Linked DNA regions of Homo sapiens. The protein of the gene in region 1 purifies or fractionates together with the protein of each later gene. This does not show direct contact. Each region holds a gene or a part of one and is shown in the gene's direction. Other genes may lie near its edges.

Evidence for each region. Proteins that work in one complex are often made in the same cells at the same time.
Region 2: the proteins of PDLIM1 (region 1) and NUDT12 purify together in Homo sapiens (affinity purification with mass spectrometry; 3 studies listed by BioGRID and IntAct, with this or other methods). This does not show direct contact.

The regions. Positions count from the first base shown.
Region 1 is NC_000010.11:95,238,982-95,246,212, reverse strand, and holds part of PDLIM1 (PDZ and LIM domain protein 1), read left to right. Parts: intron 1-7,231. UniProt on the Homo sapiens protein: Cytoskeletal protein that may act as an adapter that brings other proteins (like kinases) to the cytoskeleton. Involved in assembly, disassembly and directioning of stress fibers in fibroblasts.
Region 2 is NC_000005.10:103,559,761-103,567,034, reverse strand, and holds the start of NUDT12 (NAD-capped RNA hydrolase NUDT12), read left to right. Parts: upstream 1-4,245; 5' UTR 4,246-4,332; intron 4,333-6,780; 5' UTR 6,781-6,786; coding exon 6,787-6,992; intron 6,993-7,274. UniProt on the Homo sapiens protein: mRNA decapping enzyme that specifically removes the nicotinamide adenine dinucleotide (NAD) cap from a subset of mRNAs by hydrolyzing the diphosphate linkage to produce nicotinamide mononucleotide (NMN) and 5' monophosphate mRNA.

The DNA.
Region 1 (7,231 bases):
TGATGCTCATGGGCAGTCTTTTCCAGAGAGCTGGGTTTTGTACCCTTTCCTGGTCCCTGTGATGCCCAGTCCTCCACACTCTCTCTTCCTTTCTTGAGGCTTGGGCACTTCAGTGGGGTCTTGTTTTCTATGCCCTCTATCTCTCTCATGGACCCATCTGCAAAGAGACAGTGGATGCTCCAGTGAGGGGACACCTTGTGATGGTGAGTGTGAGACCTGCCTCAGCCAGGCTGCAAAGGGATTGGCATGTTGGCTGAGAGGCTTGTGCCCTCTGGAAGATGAACCTCCCTCCTCAAAGTCCGCAGCCGAAGATTCAGCTTCCTGGGGAGCCCTTTCTGATAAGAAAGTTCTCTTCTGAACACACCCGACACCTGGGCTTCCTCCCCATTTGTGTGATTTCTTTAGAGAGAGTGGCAGTTTACAACCATAGGAAATTAGGAAACCATGGGCCATGTGTTTGCATGTGCTTCTTTTATGCTAAAATGATACTGTTCTACCACTGCTTTCCTCTTTTGCTTGGAGTAGCTGAGCAGCTGGGAAGTAATGAGCCATACTTCGTATCAAGTTCCAGTATTAGCTTTGCCTGACAAACAACTTGGGGGCCAACCCTTGAGGATGATAGCTTTGTAAAAACATGTGAGAAACCACAACTTATTTCACTCTTACGTGGATGTGAAACCCTTCAATGAGAGGCAAGGTCAAGTTCATCCGTGCCCAACTAGACATGCTGCAGAGCTCATCTCAGCTCACAGAGAAGGACCTGAGCATGGATTTGGAAGCTCCATGCTCTTCAAGATCTGGACTCCTATCCGGCACTCCAGCACCCAAATTTGTGGCTTCTATTCCCAAGGTTACTTCGTGGTCCTGGTTAGCAGCTGGTGTTCCAACCATCATGCTTACCCCCAGGTGACAGGGAGGAAGAAGGGAGATAATGCTAACCGGGGAGTTCCAATTTCAGATGAGCCAGCTTTCTCCTTCCCAGAAGTCCCACACTACTCTTCCATTTTATTGACCATGATTTAGTCACCTGGCTACACCTAGTTAAACGAGAGTCTGGGAATTAGGATTCTTTTTAAAAAAAATTTTAGCCCTTAGTCTGGATGGTTCTTGCCCCAAAGAGAATCAAGATTCTGCTGGAAGGGAAGAGGGAGATAGCAAATCTTGTAGTTTCTCCTGTATCTCTTACTGTGTACCCGCATTAAATCTTTACTGACAGTAACAGGATAAATTCCATTCTAAACATTCTTTACATGCAGAAGGCTCTTCGGGGAAGGAACCCAAATGCCTGTTTGTTTTTGTTTTTGTTTTTGTTTGAGACAGGGTCTTGCTCTGTTGCCCAGGCTGGAGTGCAGTGGCATGATCTCGGCTCACTGCTACCTCCGCTTCTCAGGTTGCAGCGATTCTCCTGCCTCAGCCTCCCAAGTATCTGAGATTACAGATGTGTACCACCATGCCCAGATAATTTTTGTATTTTTAATAGAGATGGGGTTTCTCCATGTTGGCCAGGGTGGTCTTGAACTTGTGACCTCAGGTGATCTGCCCACCTGGACCTCCCAAAGCGCTGGGATTACAGATGTGAGCCACTGCACCCGGCCCCAAATGCCTGTTTTTATTTGAGATAAAATGGTGAAAGGTTAAGGTAGTAAAAGCAGTTGATGAGAGGTCCTGTCATTCAGAAACGCCTCTGGTTCAGAAAGCAGTGCTGCAGGGCAGAAAGAGCACTGGCATCCAGGATCTGCCTCTGACCTGCTGTGACACCTCCAGCAAGTTGCTTGCCTTTCTAAGCTCTAGTTTCTGCACAGATCCATTGAAGCTAATAGCCAGGACCTCATGGGATTGTTTACAGGGTTAAGTAAAGCCACGTCTGTAAACTGCCAGGTGCACAGTGAGTAAGGCCCCTCCCTGAAGGAAGCTTGGCTACAGCAGTATTTGGTCATAAACCTTGAAGACCCAACACAAGCTGTCTCATTTTGGGTAAAATTCAGCTTCTAGACTAGGAGAAAGGGGCCCTTGGTTCCTCACCTTCATCTTGTTCTGGATCAAATTCCAAAACTTGCAGGCAGAAGAAGCCGTTATATTAAGAAAAATGGTGAAATATACTTAATATAAAATTTACCATCTTAACAAATTTTAAGTGTACAATTTAGTGGTATTAAGTACATTTATGTGATTGTGCTACTATCACCACCATCCATCCATAGAACTCTTTTATTTTGCAAAACTGAAACTATTCCCATTAAAGAGTATTTCACCATTCCTCTCTCCTTCCAGCTCCTGGTAACCACCCTCCTGCTTGTCTCTATGAATTTGACTACTCTAAATACCTTGTATAAGTGGTGTCATGCAGTAGTTGTCCTTTTGGTCCTGGCTTAGTTCACTTAGCTTAATATCCTCGGGGTTCATCCATGTAGCATGTGTCAGAAATTCTTTCCATTTTAAGGCAGAGTATTATTCCGTTGTTTGTGTATATTACATTTTATTTATCCATTCATCTGTCCATTGAAGGAGACTTTCAATGATTGGAGGTTTGGAAGGAGCAGTCATGGGCTGAGAAAACACAGTGGTGGCCAGAGGCTCTGAGATGAGAAAACTGGAGACTAGTTCAGCAAGTACCGAGGCTCGTTTTGGCTGGTTACCCAGGGTTCCAGGTGAATCCTTGGGTGATCTCGAGTTAGATATGGGGGACCACCAGGTGCAAGGTTAAGAATCATGAGCTTGATTCTAAAGGTAGTGTGAAGTCATGCAAGGTTGTTGAGCAGTGAAGTGGACAGAAAAACAGCTGTGGTTTATTTAGCTAATTTTCACTTTTTTTCCAGAAATATTTGGGATACAGGGTTCACTGTAAGAAGAGAAATTTGGAAATTTTTGTAGTTGCCTGGAGTTCAAAGGAAGCTAGTATTTTCACTATAAGCTAGTTGAGAAGAAAGGAAGAGAGATTTCTCTGGATTCGCAGTGTTGGCTGGATATGTGAGAGAAAAAACCTTGAAGCCAACAGGTGGCACTGTAGGGCTGAACAGGCCACAGTGAGTCTTCTGTTGGGCAGGCAGCCTTCTCCCCCAAGCTGTGCCCAGTTTTATCCAGGTCAGGTCTCTTCATTCTAGAAAAAGATGTGGATTCTCCTACCTAATGGAGATTTCATGTCCCTCCTGGCTTTTTCTCATTCTACCCTTTTGCAGCCTCTCTTCTTTCCTGGTGATTTTTCTATGGATTGAGTGGATTCCAGGTCTTTAAGTGTGAAATGTGAAAAGCCCATTGCATAAGAGAGCCCGACCTCATTGAGCTGGTTCTCAGCCCAATCAGTGCCTTTGCAAACTGCCCAGGTATGTAGAGATGCTGCCATTTCCTTCTTGTCATGGGCAGGCAGCCAGATGGCTTCATCAGCCAGAAAATGAGGGAATCCGTTTGGGATGCTTGAGGCATGATGCTTAGAGAAGATGCCCACCCAGGCCCTTCTGAGATCCCTCTAGGAAGGGCCAGGATCAGGGTGAGGTGAGGGAGGCACTGCTTTGAGGGCAGAATTTTTTTTTTTTTTTTGAGACCTCTGTCGCCTAGGTTTGGAGTGCAGTGGCGTGATCTCGTCTCACTGCAACCTCCGCCTCCCGGGTTCAAGCCATTCTCCTGCCTCAGCCTCCCAAGTAGCTGGGACTACAGGCACGTCCCACAATGCCCGGCTAGTTTCTGTATTGTTAGTAGAGATGGGGTTTCACCATGTTGGCCAGGCTGGTCTCGAACTCCTGACCTCAAGTGATCTGCCCGCCTTGGTCTTCCAAAGTGCTGGGGATTACAGGCATGAGCCACTGCGCCCGGCCTTGAGTGCAGAATTTAAGGGGGCACTGGAAAACTCAATAATCATGAAAAAAAATGACATTTAAATGCAATATTAAAAAAATTAATACAGGTAAAATATATGGTGAACAAAGTTGGAACTTTGGCCTCCTCCCAAAGGAAGGGAGGAAGGCTTGGGAAGGGCAAGAAGTTGCCCTAGGCTCGGGGAGAACAGAAGCACCAAGGTGGTTTCTCCTTATGCACCTGCTGGTGGGGCAGAACTGAGTCTTCCCCAAGCCCATCTGTAGAGCTCACCACTTAAAACCATGGAGCCTCCTAATCTCAGCCCCATCTCATGTGCTGCCAGGTGGACATCTGTGTGCATCGGTTCCCAGCGATGAATAGTCCCAGCTCTGAGGGGGGAAGCCTAAGTCTGAGCCATGGCAGCATGATAGGGCTATTGAGAGTTCAGGCTGCATTCACATATACCCTCTTGTTGTTCCCCATAAGCCAGCCAAGTACCCCAAACCATCTCTCATATTGTATTATTCAGCAGTGGGTAATCTGTATTTATGAGGGCTACCGGATAGCTGTGGCTCTGCTGGGCTTGGCAGGGCTGGACCAGGCCCCGAGTCCTCTCATTCAAGCCCAGGGAAGGGAGAGGCACTCTGGTGCTTGCTGTTTTCATGGCAGAGGCAATACCTCTGTGGGAACAGGGCCAAACCACACAAGTGCCCTTAGTGCTTTTGCCTGTATAAGGCTCACATCTGCTCACGTTGGCTAAAGTCAGGATGGGGAAGTCTACTCCATCGAGAGCAGGGTTTCTCAGCCTTGGTGCTATTGACATTTTGGGCCATATGAGTCCTTGTTGTGGGGCTGCCCTGTGTATTTTGGGATGTTCAGCAGCATCCCTGACCTCTGCCCACTAGACGCCAGTGGCATCCCCTTTCACTGTGACAATCGAAACTGCTCTCTAGGAGACAAAACTGCCCCCAGTAGGGAACCACTGACTGGAGGTAAGCATGGCAAGAGAGGGGCGGGGTAATTGTGGTCAAAATACAGTCAACCATGTATTCTAAATGCCCCTTGTTGCCAGGCACAGTGGCTACTGGAGAAGCTCTGGTGGGAGGATCGCTGGAGGGCAGGACTTTGAGACACAACATAGCGAGATGCTATCTCTAATCAGTAAAAATAAACAATTAATAAATGTCCATTGTGTGAACATGTGTCTCAATTTTTGGTTCGGAAGGATTGGTCAGCATACAGGGACTCACTTTCTGAAAGAACAAGAGAGCTAAGGCCCTTGTCTGTCAGCCCCGCGATTGCCCGACGTGACTGCAGTCATGGGGTGACCCTCTCTTCATCCCCTCACCTGGCACAGGAAGCTGTTTCTTTGCTCTTGTCCAGTGGTTCTTGGATCAGTGGCGCCTGGGAACTTGTTGGAAATGCAGTCTTAGGCCCCATCCTGGGCCTTCTGGCTCAGAAACTCTGGGGGTGGGGCCCAGCAATCTGTGTGTTAACAAGGCCTCCAGGTGATTTTTACCATTATTAATAGCTACCATGGTACAGGGCTTTGTTACCTAAGATGTGATGAGTGGGGCCTTAGGCAGCTCAGCATCTAGCTACTAGGGGCTTATTTTACACGCACCAGGCTGACTACAGAAAGGCTCCTTCCTCTGCTCTGTAGGAGATGATTGTTATCTGCCTGCTGTAGCATGCTGTATTCTGATGGTTTTGTTCTATCTGTGATGTGGATTTCTTTTCTAAGAACTTTATTTATTTTTAAATTTCCAACATTTAAGTTCAGGGGTACATGTGTAGGATGCACAGGTTTGTTACATAGGTAATGACGTGCCATGGTGGTTTGCTGCACAGATCATCCCATCACCTAGATATTAAGCCCAGCATCCATCAGCCATTCTTCCAGATGTTCTCCTTCCCCCACTCCCCACCATCTGACAGGCCCTAGTGTGTCTTGTCCCTCCACCATGTGTCCATCTGTTCTCATCATTCAGCTCCCACTTACAAGTGAGAATATGTGGTATTTGGTTTTGTGTTCCTGCATTAGTTTGCTGAGGGTAATGGCTTCCAGTTCCATCCATGTCCCTGCAAAGGACAAGATCTCGTTCCTTTTTATGGCTGCATAGTATTCCCTGGTGTATACGTACCACATTTTCTTTATCCAGTCTATCATTGATGGGAATTTAGGTTGATTCCATGTCTTTGCTATCATGAATAGTGAGTGCTGTGATGAACGTAAGAGTGCATGTATTTTCATGATAGAATGATTTATATTCCTTTGGGTATACATCCAGTAATGGGATTGCTGGGCTGAATGGTATTTGTGCTTCTAGGTCTTTGAGGACTCACCACACTGTCTTCCACAATGTTTGAACTAATTTACATCCCAACAGTGTGAAAGCGTTCTTTTTTCTCCACAACCTTGCCAGCATCTGTTGTTTTTTTACTTTTTAATAATAGCCATTCAGACTGGCGTGAGTCGGTATCTCATTGTGGTTTTGATTTGTATTTCTCTAATGATCAGTGATGTCGAGCTTTTTTTCATGTTTGTTGGCCGCATGTATGTCTTTTGAAAACTGTCTGTTCATGTTCTTTGCCCACTTTTTAATGGGGTTATTTTTTTCTTTTATTGAGATGGAGTCTCGCTCTGTTGCCCAGGCTGGAGTGCAGTGGCACAATCTCAGCCCATTGCAACCTCCGCCTCCTGGGTTCAAGTGATTCTCTTGCCTCAGCCTCCTGAGTAGCTGGAACTATAGGTGCATGCCACCACACCTGGCTAATTTTTGTAATTTTAGTAGAGAGGGGGTTTGGCTATGTTGGCCAGGCTATTCTCAAATTCCTGACCTCAGGTGATCCACCCACCTCGGCCTCCCAAAGTGTTGGGATTACAGAAGTGAGCTACTGTGCCCGGCTTATTTTTTTCTTGTAAATTTGTTTTAAGTTCCTTGCAGATGCTGGATATTAGACCTTTGTCAGATGGATAGATTGCAAAAATTTTCTCGCATTCTGTGGGTTGTCTCTTCATTTTGATGATAGTTTCTTTTGCTGTGCAGAAGCTCTTTAGTTTAATTAGATCCCATTTGTCAATTTTTGCTTTTGTTACAATTGCTTTTCGGGTTTTCATCATGAAATCTTTGCCCATGCCCATGTCCTGAATGGTATTGCCTAGATTTTCTTGTAGTGTTTTTATAGTTTTGGGCTTTACATTTAAGTCTTTAATCCATCTTGAGCTGATTTTTATATATGGTGTAAAGAAGGGATCCAGTTTCAATTTTCTGCATATGGCTAGCCAGGTCTCCCAGCACCATTTATTAAATAGGGAATCCTTTCTTCATTGCTTGTTTTTGTCAGGTTTGTCAAAGATCAGATGGTTGTGGGTGTGTGGTCTCGTTTCTGGGTTCTCTGTTCTCTGTTCTTCTACCAGTACCATGTCGTTTTGATTACT
Region 2 (7,274 bases), on another chromosome or scaffold:
GGAATCCCTATATATGACAGCCATAGTCTTACAAAATGTATTTCTTTAATAATAAGTCTTGAAAGTCAAAATTACTCCTTGATTTGTGGGCTGCAGAATGTTGTGCCAGCAAGTATGAAAACAACATTAATTTCCCTGTAAATCTCCATCAGAGCCCTTCAGTGACCAGATACATTATCAATTAACAGTAATATTTTGAAAGGAATCTTTTTTTTTTTTTTTTTTTTTTTTTTTTTCTGAGACAGAGTCTCGCTCTGTCACCCAGGCTGGAGTGCAGTGGTGCGATCTCTTGGCTCACTGCAACTTCTGCCTCCTGGGTTTGCGCCATTCTCCTGCCTCAGCCTCATTCTCCTGCCTCAGCCTCCTGAGTAGCTGCAACTTCAGGTGCCCGCTACCATGCCCGGCTACTTTTTTTATTTTTTTTTTAGTAGCGACAGGGTTTCACTGTGTTAGCCAAGATGGTCTTCATCTCTTGACCTCATGATCCGTCCGCCTCGGGCTCCCAAAGTGCTGGGATTACAGGTGTGAGCCACCGCGCCTGGCCCTGAAAGGAAACTTTTCTTCTGAGCAGTAGGTGGCCACGGTAGGCTTATTCAGTAAACCACTCTCTAAACAGATGTGCTGTCATTCAGGCTTTGTTGCTCCATTTAGAGAGCACAGGCAGGGTAGACTTACCATAATTCTTAAGGGCCCTAGGATTTTCAAAATTGTGAGTATTGGCTTCAACTTCAAGTCACCAGTTGCATTAGTCCCTAATAAGTGAGTCTGCCTGTCTTTTGAGGTTTTGAAGCCAGGCATTGATTTGTCACCTCTTGATATGGATGTCATGGGCGGCATCTTCTTCCAATAGGTGGCTGTTTTTTTCTACATTCAAAGTCTGCTGTTTAGTTTAGCTGCCTTCATCAATTCTCTTAGCAAGATCTTCTGGGTAACTTGCTGCAGCGTCTCCATCGCCACTTGCTCCTTCAACTTGCACTTTTATGTCATGAAGGAGGCTTTTTTCCTTAAACCTCATGAACCAACCTCTGCTAGATGCCGACTTTTCTTCTGCAGTTTCCTCACTTCTCTCGGTCTTCATACAACTGAAGAGAGTTAGGACTTTGCTCTGGATAAAGCTTTGGCTTAAGGAAATATTATGCCTGGTTTAATCTTCCACCCAGACCACTAAAACCTTCTCCATATCAGCAATAAAGCTGTTTCACTTTCTTACCATTCATGTGTTCACTGGAGTAGTACTTTTAATTTCCTTCAAGAACTTTTCCTTTGCCTTTATAACTTGGCTAACTCTTTGGTGCAAGGGGCTTTGCTTTTGGCCTGTCTTGTCTTTTGACATGCCTTTCTTACTAAGCTTAATAATTTCCAGCTTCTGATTTAAAATGTGTGAGAGATGTGTGCGTCTTCCTTTCACTTGAACACTTAGGGGCCACTGTAGGGTTATTAATTGGCCTAATTTCAATATTGCTGTATCTCAGGGAATAGGGAGGCCTGAGGAGAGGGAGAGAGATAAGAATAGCCAGTGGATGGAGCAGTGAGAACACACACAACGTGTATTGATTATGTTTGCCAACTTATATGGGTGCAGTTTGTGGCAATCCAAAACAATTACAATAGTAACATCAAAGATTACTGATCACAGATCACCATAACAGATATAATAATGAAAAAGTGTGAAATATTGCAAGAATTACAAAATGTGATAGACATACAAAGTGAACACGTTGTTGGAAAAGTGGCACCTATATACTTGCTTGCCACAAGGTTGTCATAAACCTTCAATTTGTAAAAAATGTACTATCTGTGAAGTACAGTAAAGCAAAGTGCAATAAAACAAGGCACGTTTGTATACTTACCTGAAGGATATTAGGGAACTAACTAATTATTCTGAAGATTAGGAAATAATGGTGAAAATCGCACATTTATCCTATCTTTCCATATAAGCTGTATAGATATTTAATTAGATGAAGTTCTTTATTATAAAATAATTTGTTAGTAAATGTAGAGTGAATATCAAATTAGAATATCACTATTTGCAACTCATAACAAAATGATGGATGCAGGCAATAATCATGAATGGCTGCTAAAACTATTAGCTGAAAAGTTGATGGAAAAATTTATAATATATTTATCATAAATTTAATATTTAAATAATATAATTATATTTATCATAATTATATATCAATGTCATATATTTATCATAAACATTTACCATATTTTTATAATATTTATATTATTATTTATCATACATGTTATCAGGTTGACAACATCTGAACCCAATGATCAAGTATAACATTAAAAAAAGAGAGACAACCAGAAGTTGTAAGCCTCTTGAAGTAATTCAATACAAAGTAAACTGTAACACCTATAAAGTCTTTTGTGAAAAAAAATCAAACTTTAATCTGAGTAATTCTATAAAGTTAACTACCAGTTTGCAAGAAATACAGGGGGAAAGGACAGCACAGGAATAAAATCTGCAAAATTCAGAATGTGGAAAATTCTACAGAACAAATGATCATTACTCTTTAGTAAATAAACTGCCAGAAAAAAAGGGGAAGAGGAAGGAATCCATAGATTTTTAAAAATCAAATGTGATGTGGAGACTTTGTTCAGATGAATCAACTGAAAAACATATAAAACTTCTGAGGCAAGTGAGTAAATTTGATATTGAATGTTTCTTTTATGTTATTACAGAATTATTGTTAAATTTGTAATACTAGGGATATTGAAGTTGTGTTGTTTTTCAAAGCCCTTATATTTTAGATATAATACATATTTCCAAAAAGTTTACTCTTAAATATTTGTCATCAAAACAATATGGGGTCTGGAATTTACTTCAAAACAATCCTAACAACTGGGAGAACTATATATTAATAGTTGTTGACTCTGGATCATTAATACACGAGGGTTCACTATACTAATCTAACATATGTTTGAATGCAAAGATTGGGTACTCCAAGTGAAGTAACTAATCCTTTCTGACCACCTGTCTGGTCACTGAAATCATTAAAGGCTGAAAACAACTAGTCACATAAAGAAGCATAGGGCGGCCGGGTGCAGTGGCTCGCGCCTGTAATCCCAGCACTTTGGGAGGCCAAGGCGGATGGATCACCTGAGGTCAGGAGTTCCAGACCAGCCTGGCCAACATGGCAAAAACCTGTCTCTACTAAAAATACAAAAATTAGCTGGGCCTGGTGGCGCACACCTGTAATCCCAGCTACTCGGGAGACTGAGGCAGGAGAATCACTTGAAACCCCGGGAGGCGGAGGTTGCAGTGAGCCAAGATCGCACTACTGCACTCCAGCCTGGGTGACAGAGTGAGAACCCATCTAAAAAAAAGAAAAAAAAAAAAAAAACAGCAGCACAGGGCGTTAGAAGCCCTCATGATCAATGTCAACTGGTGCATACAGCTTCACAGTGAGAAGGAGCTTCCAAGGGTAAAATCTGGGTGGGAAACAGTGATCAATTGTAAGAGACCCCTGTAGCTGTTGCTGATTACCAAGGAGAGAGTTTAGTAAAGGAAAAAGCCCTGGTCTGGAAGTTAGAAGACCGCCAACACCTAGTTTTGTAATCTCGGACTCATAACTTCTGTAGGTTTTGGAGCATAAAAGCACAGGAACTGAAATAAAAAATAACGACAATAATTTTGTTGTGGGTGCCCACTCTGCACTTCACAACATCCTAAGAGCTTTGGATACATTATCCTATTTACACCTCACAACCCAAGGAGGTGTTTTGCGCGCTTGATACATACTTTTTAAAGGACTACTGAATAAGTTAGGCGTCAGTATATGATACCAGTTTTCCCATGGGGTGAATGATTAAGGTGTTACAGAGGCCGAATATCTCGTTTAAGAGTGACTTGGTCTAGTCAATAGTCCAGGATTATTTAACAGGAAAGAATGCTTTGAGCACTCAATTGCATTGGACTGTATTGGAGAGAGGGCTAGGAGTTGGGTGGGAGACGCTGGAAAATTTAAAATCGTTTCCTTAGGCCTACAGTTTTCCGATCGCCTGCACCACGTTCTATCTACACATCACAGTCTCAGGAGAAGGATTTTCAGCCCTTCATTCAGCTCCAATCCTTTAGACCGCGATCTCTCCCGCGCCGGCTCCCAAACACTTCCACCCCCAATCTCCACCCCTTCTCCCTTGCGCACAACCTGTGGGCTTCAAACTACATCTCCCATAAAACCGCGGGGGCCCCCCTCCCGCCCCCCCCCCACCCCCGGATCTCCACCGGAAGTCGGGAAGACTGCATCCGGCTCCAGGAAAAGCGAGTGGGATATCCCAATCTTTGGACTGCATCCTGGTTGCCTCTACTGTGGTCACCTTTGGGTTAGTAGAAGCAGTGGGGAGTTAGTCGTCTCATTGCCTCCTCTGGGGGCGGTGACCACTTCCCTGGGCTCTTTGGTTCCCGCGCTGCCCTGCGTGGCCCTGCTGAGTTGTGTGGCGGAGCCTCGTAGTGGTTTGGTGGGCGCAGGCGCGGGAGCCACGGACGCATTTGCAGGGGCTCCCGCGACAGGGCGGAGGTGCGGCGGTACTGAGGTCGTAGAGTTTCCTGCCCAAGCTGAGATGGGGAAAAGGAAGCGCTACTTAGGGTGTGATTTCACCTCGAAAGAAGGAATCTCACAGTAGTGGCAAGAAAGTAAAATATCTTAAGGCATTTTACCATTTTCAGAGACCGTGCACGGGTGGCACTTAATTGGTCTTGAGTGCCCAGGGAGTGGATGAAATTCGTTAATTGATGGTCAGTGATTTCAGTGACAGAGCGATATTTAAGGTCCTGTCCTGTCCCATTCGGTCTGTGTGAGCATGCGGAAGTCATGGGCCCCGGGTTACATGTCAGTAAAAGTGGATGTTGGTTTGTTAAAAATTTATGTCCCTTTACATCTAATATTCTTTTAAATGATTTCTCGGAATAGTCCTTGAGCTTCTTGGAAAACAAGGGCAGCACTTTATTCTGCCTTCAAATCTTTACCTTCTATAACCTGTCAATGAGAATTGAAAAAGTAAATCAAACAGTAGAATTGGGTGTTAGACTTTATGTGCTTCTCTGGAATGAATAATGGTACTATTTCTAGATGGCTTTTCTGCTGAGAAAGCTAGAGGGAAAAGTGTACACTTTCCACTTCCCATCTCCACAGAATAGCATATGCATAAGCATTGCCCTGGAGGTAGTGAATGACGCTGTATTTTTGAAGGACAATTTTGCAGTTACCTGGCGCGGCCTGTGAGAATGTGAGGGAGTGACGGTGACCCCAGAACATGAGACAGTGAAATATTATTCAAACTAAACCTAGCTGAAAAAACTATAATATGGGTTTTTGGAAAATAAACTTAAGAGAAAGACAATTTGGAAGGGAGATCAGTACAGGAGCTGTACAGCAGTGCTTCAAAATAAAGTCCTGAAAATTTGTAGCTTTTGTTATGCATAGTATTTTTAACGTATGTAGAAATTTCAATATGAAAGGAACAGCGAAGTAAATTCTAGAATAAATCAAAAATTATTCTGTCATGTAGATATTACTTCTGGTAATTTAATTTCTAAACAGATTTCCACTGTTAGGTTTCATCCAAGTGTTTCCATGACTGTGAGCAGTTTTAACCTATTTATAAGTAGCAGAAAGACACAAATAGGAAAGGTGAACAGCTCCAAAATGAGACAATTAATCTTTACTCCTTGTTTTCCCTAAATTTTGTTCATACTATTCCTGCTATGCAATTCATCAGCCAGATCGCCCTTTCAGAACCCAGGAGACAGCAGCTATCAAAAACTATGGGCTATAACCTTTCTGTCTTTTTAGCTTAAAAATCTTATTGCTTAGAATGATAGAAATGTTGTTAGAATCCCAAATCTTTTCTTAATAGCATTTCATAGAAAGAAGAATTATACCTTAAAAAAAAATACTTTGAGAAGTTCACAGACAGTTGAATCATGAACCATTTTCACCATCCCCCGCCGCCAAAAAAAAAAAAAGACAAAAAAAGCTCAGTGTGTGCTCTATCATCTGCAGTCCATGATTAGGCAATATTTAAGAGGTATGGAACAATTATTTCAGGGTTTACCCCACCGAAACAAAAAGGTGACAAAGCAGATAAAGTTAATGAGTTTTAAAAGCTGCTCTGATTCAAGGACAACAAAGTGACCAACAGAACTGTCCAATAATAGAACCAAAAATATATGATCATCTGATTTGTGACAATATTTGTCTCAGTGTAGTAGGACAAAGATGGTAATTTCAAGAATAATACGGAGTAATATGGATTATGCATTGGGTAAAAAAGTATCTTGACCCCTACCTCATGCCATGAACAAAAATAGATCCTAGATGGATTACAGAATTAATTGTGCAAGGTCAAACAATAAACTGTTTTCCTGTGAAACTTATAAAGTCTCTGCCTTTACTTCCATCTGTTTTAATGCTCTCCCCCTCATGTCCCCACCCATCGTGAAGTCCCCTCTGGTCTACCCTAAATACCTCCTCCTTATGTAATATGTTACCTGGTTCCCCCTCCCAAGGATATGGCCCCCTCGTCTGTACTGTCAGAGCTCTTTATTCATTATTTTGTGTAACTCCCATGGGCATATAAATTGCGTTGCATTTTATAATTCTAAACTGATAACATTTTGAAATTGAAATGTATGCTGTTTAAGGATTGCCTGTTGAATAGTATGTTGCCTTGGAAACCATTGCTATTATTCTATTGCTATTTATCAATATTGTTCATTGATAAAAAAGCAGTTGCAAATAAGCTTTTTCCCCTGATTTTCCTTCTTTTAAGGAAGAAATGTCTTCTGTAAAAAGAAGTCTGAAGCAAGAAATAGTTACTCAGTTTCACTGTTCAGCTGCTGAAGGAGATATTGCCAAGTTAACAGGAATACTCAGTCATTCTCCATCTCTTCTCAATGAAACTTCTGAAAATGGCTGGACTGCTTTAATGTATGCGGCAAGGAATGGGCACCCAGAGATAGTCCAATTTCTGCTTGAGAAAGGGTAAACATTTTAGGCTGTACCACCTGAAAGGGTTTGTGGTTTAATTTCTTTGTTACATATTTACTTTAAAATTTTGCTTGTTTCCATATTTATATTGTTGAACTACTAAATAACTCATTGGCTAATTTATGTAAAAATGTAGCACAATTTTTCTAACTTAAAACTTTGTAACCTTTTTCATTGAGAAATTATTTCTTTATAGCAAAGCAAATTTATGAGGAGTCTAATTATAAATTTTCCTCCCAAATAGAAAATGCAGATCTCACTATGACTACCAAGGAC